Linked DNA regions of Homo sapiens: regions 2, 3 and 4 are each reported to be linked to region 1. The links are microRNA targets in miRTarBase. Many come from high-throughput screens and were not tested one by one. Region 1 holds a microRNA gene; each other region holds the end of a gene's coding sequence.

The links. Region 1 holds the annotated microRNA hsa-miR-6830-3p (UGUCUUUCUUCUCUCCCUUGCAG, at 921-943, shown strand). A microRNA usually pairs through its seed, bases 2 to 8, with sites in the 3' UTR of a target mRNA and lowers its output. Matches are read on the target gene's strand: a 7mer-m8 pairs with bases 2 to 8, a 7mer-A1 pairs with bases 2 to 7 and ends in A, and an 8mer does both.
Region 2: miRTarBase lists SLC30A1 as a target of hsa-miR-6830-3p. Seed matches in the 3' UTR shown: 7mer-A1 at 504-510.
Region 3: miRTarBase lists CCDC83 as a target of hsa-miR-6830-3p. Seed matches in the 3' UTR shown: 7mer-A1 at 2,153-2,159.
Region 4: the mRNA of SUSD1 is a reported target of hsa-miR-6830-3p. The part of its 3' UTR that is shown has no 7-base or 8-base seed match.

Annotation. Positions count from the first base shown.
Region 1 is chr5:132,215,658-132,218,791 of GRCh38, reverse strand. It overlaps MIR6830 (microRNA 6830), which reads left to right and starts at 874; the gene lies at 874-943. It overlaps P4HA2 (prolyl 4-hydroxylase subunit alpha 2), which reads left to right. Exons shown (of 15, transcript NM_001017974.2): 2 at 148-247; 3 at 944-1,040; 4 at 1,444-1,595. The coding sequence starts at 166.
Region 2 is chr1:211,572,586-211,575,719 of GRCh38, forward strand. It overlaps SLC30A1 (solute carrier family 30 member 1), which reads right to left. Exons shown (of 2, transcript NM_021194.3): 2 at 1-3,134. The coding sequence ends at 2,803. Among named protein-coding and RNA genes, the nearest start is that of SLC30A1, 5.0 kb to the right of the region's middle.
Region 3 is chr11:85,919,015-85,922,148 of GRCh38, reverse strand. CCDC83 (coiled-coil domain containing 83) reads right to left here. Exons shown (of 11, transcript NM_001286159.2): 11 at 2,136-2,800. The coding sequence ends at 2,639. Among named protein-coding and RNA genes, the nearest start is that of CCDC83, 65 kb to the right of the region's middle.
Region 4 is chr9:112,038,805-112,041,938 of GRCh38, reverse strand. It overlaps SUSD1 (sushi domain containing 1), which reads left to right. Exons shown (of 17, transcript NM_022486.5): 16 at 1-72; 17 at 447-1,156. The coding sequence ends at 447. LINC02977 (long intergenic non-protein coding RNA 2977) reads left to right here and starts at 1,515. Exons shown (of 3, transcript NR_186812.1): 1 at 1,515-3,134. RefSeq lists enhancers at 1-267, 1-872, 268-907.

The DNA of each region.
Region 1 (3,134 bases):
GTTTGTCCTTTTTAGCTTCTGTGTGCTAGGCCAGGATTTTGATATGTTTGATTATCTGCATATGTGTGTACATGCCTATGTGTCTCCTCACCTAAATTAGTCTTTTTCACTTTGTTGATCCAGTGATTGTCATTGAATGCCTTTCAGACACTTCCCTCTGTGACCATGAAACTCTGGGTGTCTGCATTGCTGATGGCCTGGTTTGGTGTCCTGAGCTGTGTGCAGGCCGAATTCTTCACCTCTATTGGTACGTGCCAACAGGACTGTCGTCTCCCTGACACCTTGGCTCACATGCCACGGATGTCTCTGGCTGCAGCCTGTTCTCATTTAGAGTGGGATAGCCTTAACTACTGGTTTTGGCCAGTTCTGAGGAGAGTGGAACTGGCAGAGTTGCTGTTTTCCCCTATAAGATCCCAATGATCTGGATGTTCAGGGAGCCAGATGTCTGAATTGGGTCTTTCTTCCTGGGAAGTGCAGGCTGCACTTGGGCTCTCTGGTCTTTTTGACCACCTTGCCCATGGACCAGAGAGTGGTTCTGAGCAGCAAATCCTTTGTATCCTGAGGATCAAGCTTTTCCTATCCTTCCGACCTAAAGTTCAGAGCTTTTTATCCTGTGGTGAGCCCCCAGGATATCCATGCCCCAGTGTCATGACCAGCTATGTAACAGTCGGAGAATGAGATTTAGGGCTGCTTCTTGAGTGACATCCAGTGCACTTATCTCAAACATCCCCTTGGTGCCTCTGCCTCTTTCTTCCTGAAGTTGCGAGATAGAGCCCCATGAGTGCCTAGGCCCCCTTTAACTCCAAGTCCCCATAATCCTCAGAGAGCTGACATGTTCTTATCCCAGGGGACTTGCTTCTGTGCTGGTATTCTGTGCCCCAAGGAAGGAGGCTGGACATCCCTCATCTGTTTCTCACTGGTGTCTTTCTTCTCTCCCTTGCAGGGCACATGACTGACCTGATTTATGCAGAGAAAGAGCTGGTGCAGTCTCTGAAAGAGTACATCCTTGTGGAGGAAGCCAAGCTTTCCAAGATTAAGAGGTGTCCTAAGTCCCCAACCATCCTTAGTTGGCCTTCCTTCCCTTCTGCCCCTCAAGGAACAAGGAAGCCATCCAGGGTGCCTATAAGAGGAAACCTTTGAGAGGGTGATGTGGGGCTGGCCTGGTTACTTCATGCCAGTGCTTGAGAGGAGCTAAGTACATGGGCTAAGGAGTCACTGTTTATTTTCTATTTAAGACCTTTTCCCTTACATTGGGGGTCCCAGCTGTTATCTAGATTAAGGGGCTAGAAGTATCTGTGGGGAGTTACTGTATTCATTTTTCATTGCCTCTTGATGAAAAGGGCCCCAGAACCTGGCACCAGGGAATTCTCACTAGGAAAATTGTCACAGGTCAAGACCTATGTGGGTGGACGCATTAGTCTTCCTTTTCCTCTGGTTCCACAGCTGGGCCAACAAAATGGAAGCCTTGACTAGCAAGTCAGCTGCTGATGCTGAGGGCTACCTGGCTCACCCTGTGAATGCCTACAAACTGGTGAAGCGGCTAAACACAGACTGGCCTGCGCTGGAGGACCTTGTCCTGCAGGACTCAGCTGCAGGTGAGGGACGGTGAGCAGGTGCTTGAGTGAGCCCATATGTTTGTGTGCTCATGCCTGGGTTGTTGTGTCTGAGCCTGTCTTGGGTCTGGGTGTTGGTGGGCAAGTACATTGTGGAAACAGGACCCTGCTGGTCTCATGGCTCTCTCCCTTCTCTGTGGGGACCTGGAAGTTGGCTGGCCTTGGTTTTTAACATGTAATGATGTTCAGTTCTTTTTTTAGCGTCTTTTTTTTAGTGTCTGTCTTTTCTTATTTTTTGCTAATGACATTTTTCCAATTATACTTTAGTGATACATGTTTATAGAAAAGTCGGAAAACACAAAAACAAGAGAATTATAATTCTTAATCCAGTTGCCCAGTGGTGAGCATTATTAAAATTGTAGTTTTTCTACCTATGCATATACATTTAAAAAATGGAACTATACATACATACCAGGGCATGCAAACTCAGTTGCTTGGAGGGACAATGAATTTACAAGTGTCAAGTGGGCTGGATGGTGGGGCCAGGGCAAGTTGGGGAGCATAGGTCTGATCTAAATTCATTCCTATTCATATGTTTTACAAACAAAGCATATCTGTTGGTAGATTTGTGACAGAAGAAAAAATTCTGTGAATTTCTCAGCTTCTTTATATGCCATTCAATGTTCTTCTGCAACATGATTTTAATGGCTGGATGGTGATTACCTGTCAGATGGTGATAATCTGTCATACTGATAATACTGTCAAATGGGTCAAGTCATTGGATATGGGATTTTTTCTGAATTATCAGCACCTTTTTACATATTTCTTGGTGTATACTTCTGATTACTTTTTTAGGGTAAGTTCCTAGAAGTGATATTACCGATGAGAGTGTGAACTTTTTAAAAGCTTTAAACTATACTTGGTGCTTTTATTGTGATAATACTTTTTATGCCCTAATACTTTTCTGTCAATAAGAAGAGATGGTACGGTGGGCCTGGAGGTGGGCTCTCCTAACTCCTAGCCCTGGGTTTAGTCCCCTGGACTCACTGACTTTTTTTTTTTTTTTTTTTTTTTTTGAGACTGAGTCTCACTCTGTCACCAGGCTGGAGTGTAGTGGCGGGATCTCGGCTCACTGCAACCTCTGCCTCCGGGTTCAAGCAATTCTTCTGCCTCAGCCTCCTGACTAGCTGGGACTATAGGCACATGCCACCATGCCCAGCTAATTTTTTTTTGGTATTTTTAGTAGAGACAGGGTTTCACCATGTTGGCTAGGATGTTCTTGATCTCTTGACCTCGTGATCCACCCATCTCCACCTCCCAAAGTGCTGGGATTACAGGTGTGAGCCACCATGCCCGCTGCCTTTTTTTTTTTTTTTTTTTTTTTTTTTAAAGGGACAGGGTCTCACTATATTAGCCTAGACTGGAGTGCAGTGGCTATTCACAGGTGCGATTGTAGCACACTGCAACCTTGGACTCCTGGCCTCACGTGATCCTCCTGCCTCAGCCTCCTGAGTAGCTGGGACTATAGGCACAGTGCCATTGTACCCAGCTCTTCACTGCCTCTTTTCCCTGAGCTGTGAG
Region 2 (3,134 bases), not on the chromosome of region 1:
TTTTTCCTATTCAAGTTACATACCTTAGTTATTCAACATACTGTTCTCTAAAATGTTAAAACACATACAGCAAAGTTTTTGAGGATTCTGTTTTTTAGGTTTTAGTCCATAGTTTTACAATGCAGACATCCTTCAGAAAAAACTAAGCAATCATAAAAGCTAAAAGGTGACAATGGAGAATTAAATCTCTCATCACTAAGGCTGCATTTGGCTTGGAAAAATTTCTTGGTTTTAATTCAGGCACATGCAGCACCTCCTTTTCACTAAACTGAGACAACAGACAAGTTTCTAAACACATATTCTACACTGATCTTGCTCAAATATAAAAGAGCCAGCAGGAGAGATGCAACTCCTAAAACTGATGCAGTGTTATAAAATAGCATATTTAAATATTGGGTTTAAGTCTCCTAATAATTCAGAGTATTTCCCTCATTTTCTTTCAGAAAGGAATAAGCTATTTTGAGAAAGACACTTAAATCCTACAATATTTAAATACAAAAGCATGTCTTTTTTAAAAGATAATGCTAATATAGCTACAATGGGTTAGAAAGTGCATTGTAAAGAAATAAATAATTCTCTGCTAAAACTCAAAAGGTGAGTCAGTGCCCACTGTTTCTGCCGACAGTCATTTGAAAAAAGAAAATCCTATGGTACCACCATTATATATAAGCTACTTAAAAATTATGAAAAGTGAAATAACTCAAACCTAAAGGCTGTTATCTTCAAAGCACTTTTGAAAAACAAACAAACATAGCCCTTGTCCTATGCTTATATACCATTTTTTAAAATCCTCATTCAGTTGATGTCTTGTACTTAGGTGTCATGCCATCTTTAAGACACAGACCTCAAGTAGAGCATTTGTAAAGAAAACCTCATTGAATGTAATATATTTTATCAGTTATCTTTGTATCATTGCTGAAATGTTTATGTAACAAATTGATATCTGAATAAAATGTTCTGTAAAGTATTAAATCAGGAATGTACATGATACAGTACAATTCACAGCTTTCTCTTCTTGTTCGCCCAGATGAGATCCCTCAATTTCATGTTTAAAAAAAACCACCCAAACCTTTTCGCAAAATTCAAGGTAACTATCAGTTTAGGAATTGAATTACACAATATCAGATAAGAATATTAAAAGATCAAGATGTATTGCAAACTGGCAGGTTATGGTTTTGGCCCATTATAGTAAATGTGAACTTACAAACTGTGTTCCTAAAATTACCATATTTTCACTGGAAAAAATCAGCTGTTCTTAAATAGGCCCATCGCCAGCAATAGGCTTATACTAGGAAAAACACACACCACAAAAGATCATCCCTTTAAAAAGTAACTGTCAAATCCTAACACTTTTTCCTCTTACAACCCATTAAACAATGAACTATTTTAAATCCCAAAACGTAGCCATCCCAAAAGTAGTCAGCTATAAAAGTAGTCAGAATACCTTGTTTCTAGAAAAATAGAGCTATACATAACTGATGCTAATATTAATCCTTTCAAGGACAAAAATCTAATTTTGTCACAAAGCATACCCTCTATCAAGAAAAATATAACTTAAACACCCTTAAATATTTGTGTTGGATTTGAAATCTATAGCAATAATGAAATAGCCACAATTTTCTGTGTAGATATTGTGGCATCTTGCAAAATAAGCCACTATTGGAAGATCTGAGTATGTGAAGACAGGATGACTTACAAAATCTTAATTAATTTTGCTTTAATTATTAATTTTGCTAAGAATTTAATATCCAAACTGCATTAACCTTCTGGTTTTCTTTCCTCTCAAGTCAGTGACTCTTAGAAAGCACAAACATTGCTGGTTGTGCTCAAAAAGCTCCATTTAAATCCATTCATGATTGGTTATCATGAAATGACCTTGAAAATTTTTTTTCAAACGCCCGGTTTAAAAGATTACATTAATCGTTTGCGTTTAGCATGTAATTATTAGGTGTCAACATCCTTAAAAATACTTATATATTTTGTAAATAAACTTGCAGCTCAATGTTTTTATACCAATCTTTCAAAGAAAGTAATGCTGGTGAACATGTCCAAGTTTCAGATTAACTTTGGTAGAATAAAAAGTTGAAATTCTCAAAATAATTTAGAAATGTAGTCTCAATATTATCATACAATAACCTAAATATTTAGTTTGGTAAACTTTCTTCCTTGCTCTTACTACCCCATTTGCCCCATTGTGTGTAAACTGTAGTTCAATTTGTTAATTATCTTACTGTTTAATAGCCAGCAATACAGAATACAGGATAGTAACTGATCTTATTTCCTACTAATAGCCATGAGTCACTCTTAAAATATGCTGCCATTATGCTATGTAATGATCTCAAAGGGCAATATCACCTAAAATGTCAAAGGAAACAAACTGTTGATGATTTTAAAGTTCTATCAATTATAATTCTAATAAAGTATAACACTGGGGGAAAAGAAAAGCAGAGAAATTCCAGTAACAATTTTATTTATCCCCCTAATTTTTATCATGGGAAAAATCCAGAAATCAAATGTCATTATGTTATATAAGGTTTAACTTACTTTAAACAAAAATGTAACATAGTGTTAAAACTGGCTTTCCAAAACAGTCACAGCATAGCTGTACTCTGTACTAATAATCACAAAATTGTAATATAGAACTCTGTTATGCAGTCCCATTATGTTCTTACAAAAATAGAATTAAACTGTGTGACCAGACAAGGACTTCAATTACACTACTTGGCAAACTTAGAATTTCAGTGGAGTCTTTTTCCTCTTGCAGTTTAAAGCAAAAGTCAAATATCACATCTTTTTCAAGACTCACAAAGATGATTCAGGTTGTTTGTTTGGCATGTTTTTAATCTCTATCACAACAGCAGGGATGTTTTCAGCTTTAGTCCTCCTGGGCTTCTTCTCTAGATTGTTACTAAGTTCTAAACAAGAAATGCTAACTGCTGGGGTCTTTTCTGCATCCTTTCCAGAAGGGGCTTGTGGTAGTGTCCCACAACATTGCTTCAAAGCACACTGGGTTCTGCAGGCAAGTTCACACGGAACTACACTTGATTTAGAGCCTACACTAGCAAATTCAGGCTGAATGGTAGTAGCGTGAATTCCGTGATTATGAAAAACGTCTTTAATGGTTTTAGCCACCT
Region 3 (3,134 bases), not on the chromosome of region 1:
GCCTTTGCAAAATTATGACCAAGACGGCGAAAGAGATCTAATTTAATTGACTCCATCTTGCTTCTAATCTCCAAACTGTCCTTTTCATTCTTGGGCGGAGGGTCAACTAACTTTGGGAAAAACTTAGTATACAGTTTAAAACAAAGATGATAACAGCCCTTTCCCAAAGCAGTCTTCCTTCTTGCCTAGGGAGTAGATTGCATTTGTAGGACTAACATTAGCCACAAGATTAGAAATTATGGTTTGGGAGTCATGCAGCTGGAGGCTACAAGATTCTGACTGTCTCTAAACTGCTCCTAAGATCAGTGCTTGAGATATTTTGCAGACCCTGCACATCATGAATCAGCTGGCACTACCTAGATTGATAAACTGGCTCATCTGATCTTGTGGCCCCCCCATCTAGGAACTGATTTGGTCAGGAGGACAGCTTTGGCTCCCTATGATTTCATCTCTGACCAATCAGCAGTCCCGGCTCACTGGCTTCCCCACATCTACCATGTTGTCCTTAAAAACTCTGCTCCCCGAATGCTAAGGGAGAATGATTTGAGTAATAAAACAACGCTGGTCTCCCGCACAGCTGGCTCTGTGTGAATTACTCTTTTGTCTGTTGCAATTCCCCTCTTTTTTTTTTTTTTTTTTTTTTTTTTGAGGCGGAGTCTTGCTGTGTTGCCCAGGCTGGAGTGCAGTGGTGCGATCTCGGCTCACTGCAACCTCCGCCTCCCGGGTTCACTCCATTCTCCTGCCTCAGCCTCCCAAGTAGCTGGGACTACAGGCGCCTGCCACCACACCTGGCTAATTTTTTTGTAATTTTAGTAGAGAAGGGGTTTCACCGTGTTAGCCAGGATGGTCTTGACAGGATGGTCTTGATCTGCTGACCTTGTGATCTACCCGCCTCGGCCTCCCAAAATGCTGGGATTACAGGGGTGAGCCACCATGCCCGGCTCCCCTGTCTTGAGGAATTGGCTCTGTATAGGCAGCAGGCAAGGTGAACCCCTTGGACATTTACACCTTCAACAGTGGCATTTGTCTTGTTTATTGTTTTTTTAGAGGTTGTTGTTGGAAGTTTTGGGAGAGAATGGGAAGGGTCCAGGAAAGCACCGAACACAATGGAGATTAAAGTACAGGAGAGGCCGGTCGGTGGCTCATGCCTGTAATCCTAGCACTGTTGGAGGTTGAGGCATGATAGTACAGACCTGCAGTCCCAGCTACTCGGGAGGTTGAGGCAGGAGGATTGCTTGAGCCCAGGAGTTTCAGGATGCTGTGAGCTATGATAGTGCCACTGCACTCTAGCCTGGGTGACAGAGTGAGTCCTTGTCTCCAAAAATTGAGAAACTCAAAGATGTTCAATTGGTGATGGTACTACAATGTAAGGGGTGTTGGGAAAGATGACGAGTGTTTTCAACTTCTACAATGAAGAGTGTTAATGTAGCAGCATTTGAGATTGAGGGAGCAGGAGTGCTAACATCCTGTGGGCTCAAGACAGTGCTGCACAATTGTCCTTACTTTAAATGCCAATAACATCCCCCACTGATGATTAAATTAATCCTTATATCACTAAAGATTACAGAAATATGACATATGGTGGTATTATCTGGTCTCAAGGATCCAAATGGAATGCTGATGTCACATCCAGGTACTCACAGTGTCCTTGGCTTGTGGTAGCCCTGAGAGAAGTGGTATTTGCTTTGGATAGGAATGTGGTAGTTTAGACTAGATACAGCTGGAGGGAGGGAGTGCTCCCTATCAGTGGAATATTTTTATACAACAAATTAACACTCTCAAGTTTATTTCCAACATTCATTTTTTATATTCATTATAAACAGGGTGATATGGTTTGGCTATGTCCCCACCCAAATCTCATCTTGAATTATAGTTCCCATAATCCCCATGTGTTGTGGGAGGGACCTGGTAGGAGGTAATTGAATCATGGAGGCAGGTTTTTCCCATACTGTTCTTGAAGTAGTAAATAAGTCTCACAAGATCTGATAGTTTTATAAATGGGAATTCCCCTACACAAGCCCTCTCTTTCCTGCCACCATGTATGATGTGACTTTGCTCCTCATTTGCCTTCTGACATGATTGTGAGGCCTCCCCAGCCATGTTGAACTGTAAATAAATTAAACCTCCTTTATAAATTACCCAGTTTCAATTATGTCTTTATTAGCAGCATGAGAACAGACTAATACACAGGGTTAAACTACGGAGAATTGGCTTGCATTATAGACTGGCTGTCTATCACATTGAGCATCCTCAGAGGGAAAGATGTGTAGACAATGCTATGCAAACTTCTAAGTTTTTCTTAGAAACATTTCTAATGGAACTATTTCATACTGGAATCACAGATTAATCAGTGAATTTTTTGTGTGTGAAAAGGAACCTCAGAGACTACCTTGAACCCACTGTCATGCTTCTGAATACTTCAGTGTAGAAATACAAAGCGTGCTTCCGTTTTGGTCACTCATACCATGCAAGTAAATGAATAGCTGAATACCTTTGATTTTAAATGTAAATATGACCTTTAGAAATAACAGCTGGTTTAAAAATGAGCCAAAGTGTAAGTAAAATGGGCAACGGATATACTTCAGTTCCCAAAGAACATTTATAAGGAAAAGTTGTGTTTCCTTTGCAGCTTTCCGTCTTAGAGAAAAGACTTCATCATCTTATATGTGATGTGGCTTTCTGGGCTCCTGACATCTTTATAGAGTTTGACTGGAATTTCCTTCTCTTGAAAATGAATGGGCATTTTCTTGCTCTCCACACTCATAAGCTTCACTCCCAGGGGGCCCAAGTTTACATAATCCTATGGTGAACAGGCACAAAAAAGAATAGGAGAGGTGATTCAGCAAATTACCAGCTTGATAGATTAGGCTTTCTTTATTACAGTTGGCCTTTATCTGACAGACTTCATTGCCCCCTAATTGCCTGATGCTGTGTAGCACATGAAATATGAGAGCCACTATAAATGGGAAAAAAACAAAATACTCAGGAAACTTATATACCCAGTAGGGCATACACAGTAGGCAAGATCTTCCAAAAGCAGGCAGCAAGGCTGGAAGGCTTGTCTCATAGTGGGTTAATGGGGGAGGGATGCTGGCTATAGTTAGTGCAAAACTAACTATAGTCTGTGAAAGGAA
Region 4 (3,134 bases), not on the chromosome of region 1:
GATGGCGGGTGTTGGACTGGGTTCCCTGGCTGTTGTGATCATTCTCACATTCCTCTCCTTCTCAGCGGTGTGGTATGTGAGGGTGTCATTTTTGAGAAATGACTGGAATGGAGGGGAGGATGGGTCAGAGTCACGAAGAACAGCTGGGGATGAGGGGAGTCAAAGGGAGTGTGGGTGGAGGTTGTCCTTGGCTCAGCAGAGCACACTCAGCGGTGAAAGGCATGACTAACCCTGTACCTCCAGGTAGCATGGGGGATGCCTTCCCAGGAAAAGAGCAGGACCAGTGATGGCTGCCCTGGCCACACACAGAGGGGTGGCTGAGCTTCCATGCTGCTCCCCCTCGCCTCCTCCCATGGGTGTGCGTGTGAGCTGTGCATAGAGATGCACAGTGGGAAAACCAAAGTGTGTTCATATTTGTCTCTTTTCTTTTCCTCCTCCATGTCTAGATGGCAGATGGACACTGAGTGGGGAGGATGCACTGCTGCTGGGCAGGTGTTCTGGCAGCTTCTCAGGTGCCCGCACAGAGGCTCCGTGTGACTTCCGTCCAGGGAGCATGTGGGCCTGCAACTTTCTCCATTCCCAGCTGGGCCCCATTCCTGGATTTAAGATGGTGGCTATCCCTGAGGAGTCACCATAAGGAGAAAACTCAGGAATTCTGAGTCTTCCCTGCTACAGGACCAGTTCTGTGCAATGAACTTGAGACTCCTGATGTACACTGTGATATTGACCGAAGGCTACATACAGATCTGTGAATCTTGGCTGGGACTTCCTCTGAGTGATGCCTGAGGGTCAGCTCCTCTAGACATTGACTGCAAGAGAATCTCTGCAACCTCCTATATAAAAGCATTTCTGTTAATTCATTCAGAATCCATTCTTTACAATATGCAGTGAGATGGGCTTAAGTTTGGGCTAGAGTTTGACTTTATGAAGGAGGTCATTGAAAAAGAGAACAGTGACGTAGGCAAATGTTTCAAGCACTTTAGAAACAGTACTTTTCCTATAATTAGTTGATATACTAATGAGAAAATATACTAGCCTGGCCATGCCAATAAGTTTCCTGCTGTGTCTGTTAGGCAGCATTGCTTTGATGCAATTTCTATTGTCCTATATATTCAAAAGTAATGTCTACATTCCAGTAAAAATATCCCGTAATTAAGATTGTTCTTCCCTTGGTTAATTTTTCTGTTACTAAGCGTCTTCTAAAAATGCTCTTTGCCCCCTGTTAGAAACTGAGATTTGGTGGTAGTGTAGTAGCAATGCTTAAAACAGTATTGAGCCCATGGCTAGACTAGAGTCCATGTGTGTTTCAGGGGAGGGGTTGCCATAGAGGGTGACACTTCTTTTATCTAAACTTCAGTAACTATGAATGTTACTCCATTATGAACTATGAAACATTAGATATAAGCGGTGCTGGACCTACTGTGAATATGCTAAGTTGACAGCTGGAGTCTATTTGATTTTACTTTTAAATCATGAATTGGCATTCTTTCCTCTTTTTTTTTTTTTTTTTTTTGAGATGGACTCCCACTCTGTTGCCCAGGCTGGAGGGAAGTGGCGTGATCTCAGCTCACTGCAACCTCTGCCTCCCGGGTTCAAGTGATTCTCCTGCCTCAGCCTCCCATGTAGCTGGGACCACAGGGCCCCCCCACCACGCCCAGGTAATTTTTGTATGTTTAGTAGAGATGGAGTTTCACCATGTTGGCCAGGGTGGTTTCAAACTCCTGATCTCAGTTGATTCGCCCACCTTTGCCTCCCAAAGTGCTGAGATTACAGGTGTGAGCCACACGCCCGGCACTAACTAACAATTTAACTCCAAGACTCAGTAAGAAACGAATGGGGAAGGAAAGACAGAGGCTTCTGGCATCTCTCCTTCTCCCTTGCCTGCTAGGCCTAGAGAAGAAAAACCATGGAGGAGGGGAGGTGATACTGCACAGCCTCAAGATGCAGCATAGACGAATGCAGTCCTTAGCAAAAGGAAAGGGCTTCCCAATGCAGTGGGCCGGTGTGTTCACCGGCTTGCTGGGTGTCAGTGAGGGAAGACTCTGAGTGCCTTGGGCTTATGGGCAGATGAAGAGACAAGAGGAACAAGTACAAACTGCCCATGTAGCTGCTCCACCCCAGGGAGTCCAGAGTGTATCCGCTCTATTGGGAAGAATTAGAGAGAGGCGAGTAATATCCTGACATTCAGGTGTTCAATGCCAGCTGTCAGCCTCTGGCCCCTGCCAGTGTTAGGAATGATTCCCCTGTCCTCTGGGGTACTGCCCTCCGACGACAACTTAGGATCAGCATTTAAAACCCTTTCTGCTCTCGTCTTAGGTAAATTATAGACCAGAACGGGTCTATAATGGGGACAGGTCCCCATCCTAACCCCCAGAGACCGTTTCTCTCAATAGATGAATACAAATAGCTCTCAATTTTTAATTTTTATGTGCAATAATGCAAACATACTTTTTTTTTTTTTTGAGACGGAGTCTCACTCTTTCTCCCAGGCGGGAGTGTAGTGGCGCTATCTCGACTCACTGCAAGCTCCGCCTCCCGGGTTCACGCCATTCTCCTGCCTCAGCCTCTGGAGTAGCTGGGACTACAGGTATCCGCCACCGTGCCCAGCTAATTTTTTGTATTTTTAGTAGAGATGGGGTTTCACCGTGTTAGCCAGGATGGTCTCGATCTCATGACCTCGTGATCCACCCGCCTTGGCCTCCCAAAGTGCTGGTATTACAGGCATGAACCACCACGCCTGGCCGCAAACATACATTTTTATAGCTCCTGAACTAAATTGGGTATCAATACAAATTACTGTGGTTAGTGTAGGGCTCGGCCTCTGATGAGTGAGGATCTTTCCTCAAAGCCCACCTTTGTCCAAAGAAAGAATCTGAGCCTCCCCTTGACTTATTTTATTTTTTGCCAGTTTTGTAAATGCTGTATGCTTCCATACTACCCCCTTCCCTAATTTCCACCTCTAGAATTAACTGCCAGAGATACAGTTGTCCACATGGAATGTAGTATAATTGTGATAGAAAGGAAGAAATCCCCCTTGCTTAGTATTAAAAGTTTCTGGTTAAAATAACTGACTAAATATTAAGTAAAACATCACCTTCTGGGTACAATGCAGAAAAGTAAAAGCAGTTCATATA